Regions from separate parts of the Homo sapiens genome. Here region 1 is linked to region 2. The links come from fine-mapping of genetic effects on gene expression. A gene starts in region 2. The other region holds a variant in brackets. All regions are shown on one strand. Distances are from middle to middle. Region 1 holds the start of SMG6-AS1 (SMG6 antisense RNA 1). Region 2 holds the start of HIC1 (HIC ZBTB transcriptional repressor 1).

Evidence for each region. PIP is the estimated chance that this variant, and not a neighbour inherited with it, causes the effect.
Region 1: its variant is fine-mapped to the expression of HIC1 in whole blood (TOPMed, PIP 0.91).

Annotation. Positions count from the first base shown.
Region 1 is chr17:2,089,173-2,093,549 of GRCh38, forward strand. The region is part of intron 13 of SMG6 (SMG6 nonsense mediated mRNA decay factor); the gene reads right to left. It overlaps SMG6-AS1 (SMG6 antisense RNA 1), which reads left to right and starts at 566. Exons shown (of 2, transcript NR_199038.1): 1 at 566-597. RefSeq lists enhancers at 178-357, 368-467, 488-587, 618-697. The variant C/T (reference allele first, on the strand shown) is at 2,567.
Region 2 is chr17:2,052,812-2,057,188 of GRCh38, forward strand. HIC1 (HIC ZBTB transcriptional repressor 1) reads left to right here and starts at 2,292. Exons shown (of 2, transcript NM_006497.4): 1 at 2,292-2,427; 2 at 3,860-4,377. The coding sequence starts at 3,880. RefSeq lists silencers at 856-1,325, 2,076-2,575, 2,716-2,765, 2,806-3,215, 3,266-3,385 and 3 more.

The DNA of each region.
Region 1 (4,377 bases), 36 kb after region 2:
ATTTTTCCACTCTATATCAATGAAAACCAGAGAATGTAAGTGGCATGTATATCGCAGCTCTGGGGGCAAACTCTGGATCCTCCAGAGGAGAAAGAGCTGGGCGGGAGAGGCTCCCTTCCTGGGCTACATTAGCACGTGGGGCTGGACTGGGGATAGAGGCGACTAAAAGGGCCGCCAGCCAGGGAACACCCTGGGGAGCCTACGGACCTCTCCTCTGCGGTGTACCTTCTCAGTCACAGTCCTGACCCTTCTGGAGGGAGATGCACTGTGTAGGCGATTGTCAAGAATTCCCAAGTTAATTGACAAAATATCACATACAAATCATTTCAATCAGCTTGGGAAAGAAAACTGGGGCTTTAGGTCAGGGAAGAGCTGAAAGAAAGCCCCTTTCCCTTCCCCTGAAGATTGTCGGAGGCAGCTTACCACTGCAGCAGGAACTGAAACCTTTAGCTTTAGGGCTCCAGTTATCACTCTAATCAAGTCCACACGCAAAGAACCAAGCAGAAAGGAAAACTGAAAGTGAGATGTGGAGAGGCGATACCGGAGGCTGTTCTCTCCTAGGCTCAGTTCCTTAGAGAGAGATAATGTAAGCATCGGGTAAGTAGGGGCTGGAGCCAAGGGGAGCGAGGAACAAAGGAGAAAACCTCTAGGTCAAGAGAGTAGACTGGGTTACTGTTCTGGGGTATTTAAGGTGGAGAGGTGGAGAAGTAAAGAAAAATGGTGTTTCTTGACTGGGCACGGTAGCTCACGAATGTCATGTCAGCACTTTGGGAGGCCAAGGTGGGCAGATCACCTGAGGTCAGGAGTTCAAGACCAGCCTGGACAACATGGTGAAACCCCATCTCTACTAAAAATACAAAAATCAGCCGGGTGTGGTAGTACATGTGGTAGTCCCAGCTACTAGGGAGGCTGAGGCAGGAGAATCGCTTGAATCTGGGAGGTGGAGGTTGCAGTGAGCCGAGATTGCACCACCGCACTCCAGCCCAGGCAACAAGGCGAGACTCTGTCTCAAAAAAAAAAAAAAAAAAAAGGAAAGAAGAAAAAATGGTGTTCTCTGAAAACTGGTGACTCTTCACAGCCACTCGGTAGGGAACAAGCACAGTGTGGGTAGAGATGCCCGGCGGGGGAGGGGGGTTGGGGAGAGAAAACGAGCTATATGCTGCTTTATGAAGGTAGGGAGGGTAAGAGAGAACGGGAACTAAGCACCAGGTATCACATACTCATGTGCTCTGAGTTGCAAGACTTAACACCTCAGGGCAGCCCCGGGGAAGGGAGAAAACCTCCAAATCTAGCCAGGGAATATGAGGAAGGGCTGGAGAGCCAGGACCCTGGATGCAAGCTCTAGGGAGTGAGGGACTCGCTCTATCGTTACCTGGTCCCCGTTTTCTCCAAACAGGCTTCTTGGAAGGCACAACCATGGTTACTAGTCATTTTGCAAAATTTCTTTTTCTGAATTTTTGGTTTGGAGAAATCGGAGTTTAAACTTGTACTATCAGCCAGTTCTTTTTTCTAGTCTTAACAGTCCAGCTTGCTACTGCTCCTCTGGTTAAAGAGAACAATCACACGGGTTTCCCCCCACAAACTCAAGTTTACAGGTTGTTTTTCTTGTTTCTCTAAATGGAGCCAATTATTCTCACATTTGTTGAAACCTTCAATCAAACTTTATAGCTTGTTAATTTTACAGAATGTCCTTAGAGCAAATAAGATGCAGACAGGAACATGAAGTCTTTCTGAGATTATTAAGAAACCTTAAAATAGCCTACAAATCCAACACCAAGGCTGGTAAAATACAGGCTGCTTGGCTGGCTTCTGAGGTCAATTAGCAATGGGTTAATTATCATCTTTAATGAGCCAAACCTCCAGGATTGGCCACAAGAAATTTAACTCAGACTAATGTGTTTTCACAAACTGGGAACCTCTAGTTATGCACTACTCACCCTCAGAGGAAACTGAAGGGTGGGAAGCTCAATTCTGTAGCAGCCAAGGGTGGGCCAGCCTACGAAGGGGTCTGCCAATGGAAGTTCAGACACAAGAAATAAAAAATACCACACAGGGAATCCTCTGGAGCTGGGAGGACAGAGGAAATGGTTTATTCACATTCCTAGGGGGAGGGGCCTCCTGGCAGGAAGCAGACTCCAGAAGGCAGGAGCGAAACTGGCCACAAGGATGCACAGTCAGTCTGAAGACACAGGCAGTAGCTTAGGATGGGGAGACAGACATTCACAGCCTACTTGAGTCAGAAGAAGTTGGTATGAAATTGAGAAAGAGGCTCATGGGTCAGAGAGGAGGGAAAGAAAGAACCTGTGCAGGGGCTGAATGATAAGGGGGACAGAGTGAGAAAAAGCACACATCCTTGGACCAGATGCATCTCCTGACAACCTCGGAGCATACTGTCCAAGGGATCAATTCAAACAGTATTTCACTCTTTCCCTACCCCTGCTATAGCTGGGCCTCTTTCTATGTAAAGCGTTAAGTACAGGCTACTTTCTCAGTCTTTTTGCTTTTTTTTTTTTTTTGAGAGAGAGTCTCGCTCTGTTGCCCAGGCTGGAGTGCAGTGGTGCGATCT[C/T]GGCTCACTGCAAGCTCTGCCTCCCGCGTTCACGCCATTCTCCTACCTCAGCCTCCCGAGTAGCTGGGACTACAGGCACCCGCCACCACGCCCAGCTAATTTTGTGTGTGTGTGTGTTTTTTTTTAGTAGAGACGAGGTTTCACCGTGTTAGCCAGGACGGTCTTGATCTCCTGACCTCGTGATCCGCCCGCCTTGGCCAACCAAAGTGCTGGGATTACAGGCGTGAGCCACTGCGCCTGGCCCCTTTTTCTTTTTTTTTTTTTGAGACAGAGTCTTGCTCAGTCACCCAAGCTGGAGTTGCACTGGCATGATCTCAGCTCACTGCAACCTCCGCCTCCCGGGTTGAAGCGATTCTCCTGCCTCAGCCTCCTGAGTAGCTGGGATTACAGGTGCGCACTACCATGCCTGGCTAATTTATGTATTTTCAGTAGAGACGGGGTTTCGCCATGTTGGCCAGGCTGGTCTCGAACGCCTGACCTCAAGTGATCCACCGCGCCCGGCCTTTCTCAGTCATTTCTAATCCCGGTGTCCAGATCCAACCCTCCGTAGTCCTATGGTTGGCCTGTGCTAGCTGAAGGGTCATTGGGTCACAAGATGAAATGCTAACATCATTGGTCCACCCACAGCAACCACACCATTCCATGTGTCTGGTCCCAACAGCTGTGTTTTCTTCTTAGAGGAGGCAATGAGGGCCATTATCAATCAGCCAGCATTGCACAGATGCCTGCTGTCCCCACCTGTAACCACCAGGTGTGTGCTGAAGTCTCTTAGAGAAGGGGAGGTGGGAACTGGCAAATGGTCAGATGGCAAGACCTGGTGCTGGTGGGGAGACTATCCCAAGACAGGGTTACTGAAGATCCCAAAAGGTACACGTATATTTGGCTACTAGGAAGGAGACGATGTTCACACTGAAGGGAGAACCAGGGGAACAGGGGAGTTGTGAAGCACACACAGGAAGTAATGAGGTAAATAAAGTATAAAAAACAGGGCCATTCTGGCAAGAGGCAAGACAAGGCAATACAGGAGGTTGGACAAGAGCCTGGGCTTCATAGTTACACAGACGTGAGTTCAAGTACTAACTGCCACTTCCTGGCTGTTTATCCTTAGACAAGTTACTTAACCTCTCTGAGCCTTTGTTTGCTCAAGTTGTTTGTGAGGTTTAAAAGATAATACAGGCCGGGTGCAGTGGCTCATGCCTGTAATCGCAGCACTTGGGGAGGCTGAGGCAGTGGATCACCTGCGGTCAGGAGTCCGAGATCAGCCCGGCCAACATGGTGAAACCCCATCTCTACTAAAAATACAAAAATTAGCTGGGTTAGTAGCGGGCTCCTGTAATTCCAGCTACTCAAGAGGCTGAGGCAGGAGAATCTATTGAACCCAGGAAGTGGAGGTTACAGTGAGCTCAGATCGTTCTATTGCAATCCAGCCTGGGTGACAGAGCAAGACTCTGTTGCAAAAAAAAAAAAAAAGATAAGACAAGCCTGGGCAACATAGTGAGACTGTGTCTGTCAAAAACAAACAAACAAACAAAAAAGCTGGGCATGGTGGTGCAACACACCTATGGTCCGAGCTAACTAGGAGGCTGAGGTAGGAGGATTGCTTGAGCCGGGGAAGTCAGAGCTGCAGTGAGCCATGAGCACGCCACTGCACTCTAGCCAGGGTGACAGAGTGATATCGTGACTCAAAAAGAAAAAAAAAGACAGAGGGAATACATATCAAATACTTAGCGAGATGCCTGGGCCCAGTAGGTGCTCGATAATTGAGCAGCTGGCATTTTTTTTTCCTCTTATCTCCACTCTCTTCAGAGGTG
Region 2 (4,377 bases):
AGGGCTGTGAGACCCTCCCTTACAGAAGCAATGAGGGCTTGAGGATGGGGTTAGGGGCCTGGGCTGGGGCAGGGCTGTGAGACCCTCCCTTACAGAAGCAATGAGGGCTTGAGGATGGGGTTAGGGGCCTGGGCTGGGGCAGGGCTGTGAGACCCTCCCTTACAGAAGCAATGAGGGCTTGAGGATGGGGTTAGGGGCCTGGGCTGGGGCAGGGCTGTGAGACCCTCCCTTACAGAAGCAATGAGGGCTTGAGGATGGGGTTAGGGGCAGTAAGTTAACTTGGGGAGCGGATGTGGGGGAACGCTGAAGAATAAAGACTGTGGGCACAGCAGACCCCTGGGGCAGGTTAGCAATGCACAGACTCCACTGCACAAGATACATGGGGCGGAGGGGCTCTTTGGAAGTCGGGGGTGGGGGATCTGACTCTATCAAAAAGAGAAAAGATAAAAGAGATGGGGTCAGAGAGGCCCTGCATAGTCTGGATTTGGCCTACTAGAGCTCCAGTTTTCTTGCCGCTAGCCTTTGTTCCAGGGATTCTGTTATTCACAAATGCCTTCCTGCTCGGTAGAAGAACTCCTATTCATCCGTCAAAGCCCAGCTCTAGGAGCACTTATGAGGAGCCTCTCCACCTCCCCTCAACACTCCGTAACTTCCACCTCAGGCCGCAGCACGTCCCTCGGGCGAGATGTCGGGGTCCGCCTTCCCTAGAGACCGGCAGCTCCGGAGGCCTCCGTTTTCCTCTTTGGGACCTCACTGCTTCTAAAGTGAGGATGCTATGGGGAGACATGGGAGAGGGAGTGGGTAAGATGGATCCAGAACATGGGGCGGACTCAGGCAGCGGCGGGAATCAGGCGGACTCGTTTGGACCGAAGCCTCCGCCAGGCACCGAAGCCGTGAAGTCGCCTGCGCAGCAAAGGGAGCCTCCGGGGGGCGCCCGAGACCTTGGTGTCGCTCGGGGGCCGCTGGTAGCCGCGCCCGCTGCCCCTCGCCCGGTGACTCAGCCGGTACCTCTGGCGGGGCCATGGGGGCCAGAGGACAGCGCGGGGGGCGGCGAGCGCGGTTGCTAAGCTCTCCAAGGCCTCGGAGGGACAGGATCTGGGCGCACCTCACCGGTTGCCATGGTAACGCAGCGCCCCAGCCCCTCGCGCTCCGCGGTGGAGGGAGGCGCAGCCAATCGGAAGCGGCGGAGTTCTCGGGGACCCCCCCCCCCCCCGCTCCACGCCGTGTGTGGGCGGGGGTCAGGAGGTGCGGGGCGGAGGCGGAGCGTGGGCCGCGGAGATCCGGCGTTCGCAGGAGGCTTGGTGCGCGGCGGGGCTGCACGGGGCCACTTCCGGAGTAGTACTGCGAGCAGCGGCGCGACAGTGCGGGGTCCCCTTTCTCCCAGAAGAGACGTCACCCACACAAACCTGACCTTCACGTGGGGCGCGGGACCTTGCGGGGTCCCAGCCGCAGGCGCCCCTGTTGTTTCCTTCGGGCGGGTGGGTTGGAGAAGAAGTCCACGCGGGATTCTTCAAAACGGCGTACAGGGGGATTCTAGGGCCCCATGGTTACTTCTTTGGACCCCCCGGAGGCGCTGTCCAGCCACTTCCAGTCGCCCTGATGACTCGTCGTGGGTTCCTTTAGGAGACCCGAAAGTTCAGGGCGGGCTGTGTGGGTAACACCTCTGCCCAGGTTCCCGGAGGGCCCTACGTGGCTGCCCCTGGAGTATCCCAGAGCGCTAGGGCTGCGGGAAGGGGCGGGTGTGCTTCTGGAAACATGAGCGCCTGTTAGTATCAGTGCCTGGATAGGGCTGGGGACAAATCAGTTTATGCCGCGCACACCGAATCCATGCGCCTGAGTGAGGGTGGGTGTGTTGGGGAGTGCGTCCAAGTGGACAGTGCCGTACAGTAATGTCTACGGGGAGTTCCAGGAGAGCTCGGCTACTCCTGCGCAGGATAACCTCTCCCCCACCACCCGAGTCCCGTGCTCGCGGGCAGGACTTTTCCGAACTGGGGCTGTGTGCCTAGAAATACGTACATGGGAGCGCTCAGCTCAAAGCCCCAGGGTTTCTGGGACTCGCGTGTCCGGGGTCGGGGTCCCAGGTGGGTACAGGTGGGAGGGCGAACCTGCGGGTAGGGTGGGCCCCTCCCCGCGGGCTCAGCATCTGTGCGCCTCCAGCTCAGGTGCGCGGGAGGAAGGCAGCGGCCTGCCGCGCAGAGCCCTGCGCGCCCGCGAGGTGGCGCCATAGCCGCAGCAGCGCCCGCCGGCCCGGGCCGCTCCAGATAAGAGTGTGCGGAAAGCGCGGCGGGGCTGAGACGCGACCAGGACGCGGGGAGGACGGACCAGCAGGACAGACCGACCGGGGGCCCGGCGGGCGGAGGGCAGCGCAGCCACGTCCCCCCTGGATCCGCCGTCAGCCGGGCCCGGGGCTTTCGACATGCCCCCCAGGTGGGTCCTCGAGCCGGGGACCGGGAGGGACGGGGGACCCGGGACAGCCCGGTCCTCGTGCGTCGGCCGCCTCGGGTGCATCTTCTGGCGCGGGTGCCCCATCGCGGCTGGCGGCTGGCGTTCAGGGCTCCGGGTGTCGTCCCTTTCGGACTCAGGACCACCGGGCCGCGGCTCCGCGCCGGGTTCACGGCGGGGTCAGCGGCCCGGGGCCGGCTCTGCCCGCACATGGGCTGGAGAGGCGAGGGGAAGGGAAGGGAAGGGGAGCTGGCGGGCGGGGCTGGCAGGGGCGCTGCCCTGGCACAGCTCGGGGCCTGGCAGCGGCGGGTGGGGCATCGGCTAAGAGCTGCCACCGCCGCGGGGAGGGGAGCCCGGCCCGCCGGGACCGCAGGTAACGGGCCGCGGGGCCCCGCGGGCCAGGAGGGGAACGGGGTCGGGCGGGCGAGCAGCGGGCAGGGGAGCTCAGGGCTCGGCTCCGGGCTCTGCCGCCGGATTTGGGGGCCGCGAGGAAGAGCTGCGAGCCGAGGGCCTGGGGCCGGCGCACTCCTCCCGCCCTGTCTGCAGTTGGAAAACTTTTCCCCAAGTTTGGGGCGGCGGAGTTCCGGGGGAGAAGGGGCCGGGGGAGCCGCGGAGGGAGGCGCCGGGCCCGCGCGTGTAGGGCCCAGGCCGAGGCCGGGACGCGGGTGGGGCGCAGGCCCGGGTCAGGGCCGCAGCCGGCTGTGCGCCGTGCCCGCCCGGGGCGCTGCCCCCTCCCTCCCCTGGGAGCTGCGTGGCTCCCCCCTCCCCCCCACCTGCTTCCTGCCTCAGCCTCCTGCCCCGATATAACGCCCTCCCCGCGCCGGGCCCGGCCTTCGCGCTCTGCCCGCCACGGCAGCCGCTGCCTCCGCTCCCCGCGCGGCCGCCGCCCGGGCCCCGACCGAGGGTTGACAGCCCCCGGCCAGGGCGGCGCCAGGGCGGGCACCGCGCTCCCCTCCTCCGTATCACTTCCCCCAACTGGGGCAACTTCTCCCGAGGCGGGAGGCGCTGGTTCCTCGGCTCCCTTTCTCCCTACTTGGGTAAAGTTCTCCGCCCTGAATGACTTTTCCTGAAGCGGACATTTTACTTAAATCGGGTAACTGTCTCCAAAAGGGTCACTGCGCCTGAACAGTTTTCTTCTCGGAAGCCCCAGCACCCAGCCAGGTGCCCTGGGGCGTGCAGGCCGCCCTGGCCTCCCCTCCACCGGCGGCCGCTCACCTCCTGCTCCTTCTCCTGGTCCGGGCGGGCCGGCCTGGGCTCCCACTCCAGAGGGCAGCCGGTCCTTCGCCGGTGCCCAGGCCGCAGGGCTGATGCCCCCGCTCAGCTGAGGGAAGGGGAAGTGGAGGGGAGAAGTGCCGGGCTGGGGCCAGGCGGCCAGGGCGCCGCACGGCTCTCACCCGGCCGGTGTGTGTCCCCGCAGGAGAGTGTGCTGGGCAGACGATGCTGGACACGATGGAGGCGCCCGGCCACTCCAGGCAGCTGCTGCTGCAGCTCAACAACCAGCGCACCAAGGGCTTCTTGTGCGACGTGATCATCGTGGTGCAGAACGCCCTCTTCCGCGCGCACAAGAACGTGCTGGCGGCCAGCAGCGCCTACCTCAAGTCCCTGGTGGTGCATGACAACCTGCTCAACCTGGACCATGACATGGTGAGCCCGGCCGTGTTCCGCCTGGTGCTGGACTTCATCTACACCGGCCGCCTGGCTGACGGCGCAGAGGCGGCTGCGGCCGCGGCCGTGGCCCCGGGGGCTGAGCCGAGCCTGGGCGCCGTGCTGGCCGCCGCCAGCTACCTGCAGATCCCCGACCTCGTGGCGCTGTGCAAGAAACGCCTCAAGCGCCACGGCAAGTACTGCCACCTGCGGGGCGGCGGCGGCGGCGGCGGCGGCTACGCGCCCTATGGTCGGCCGGGCCGGGGCCTGCGGGCCGCCACGCCGGTCATC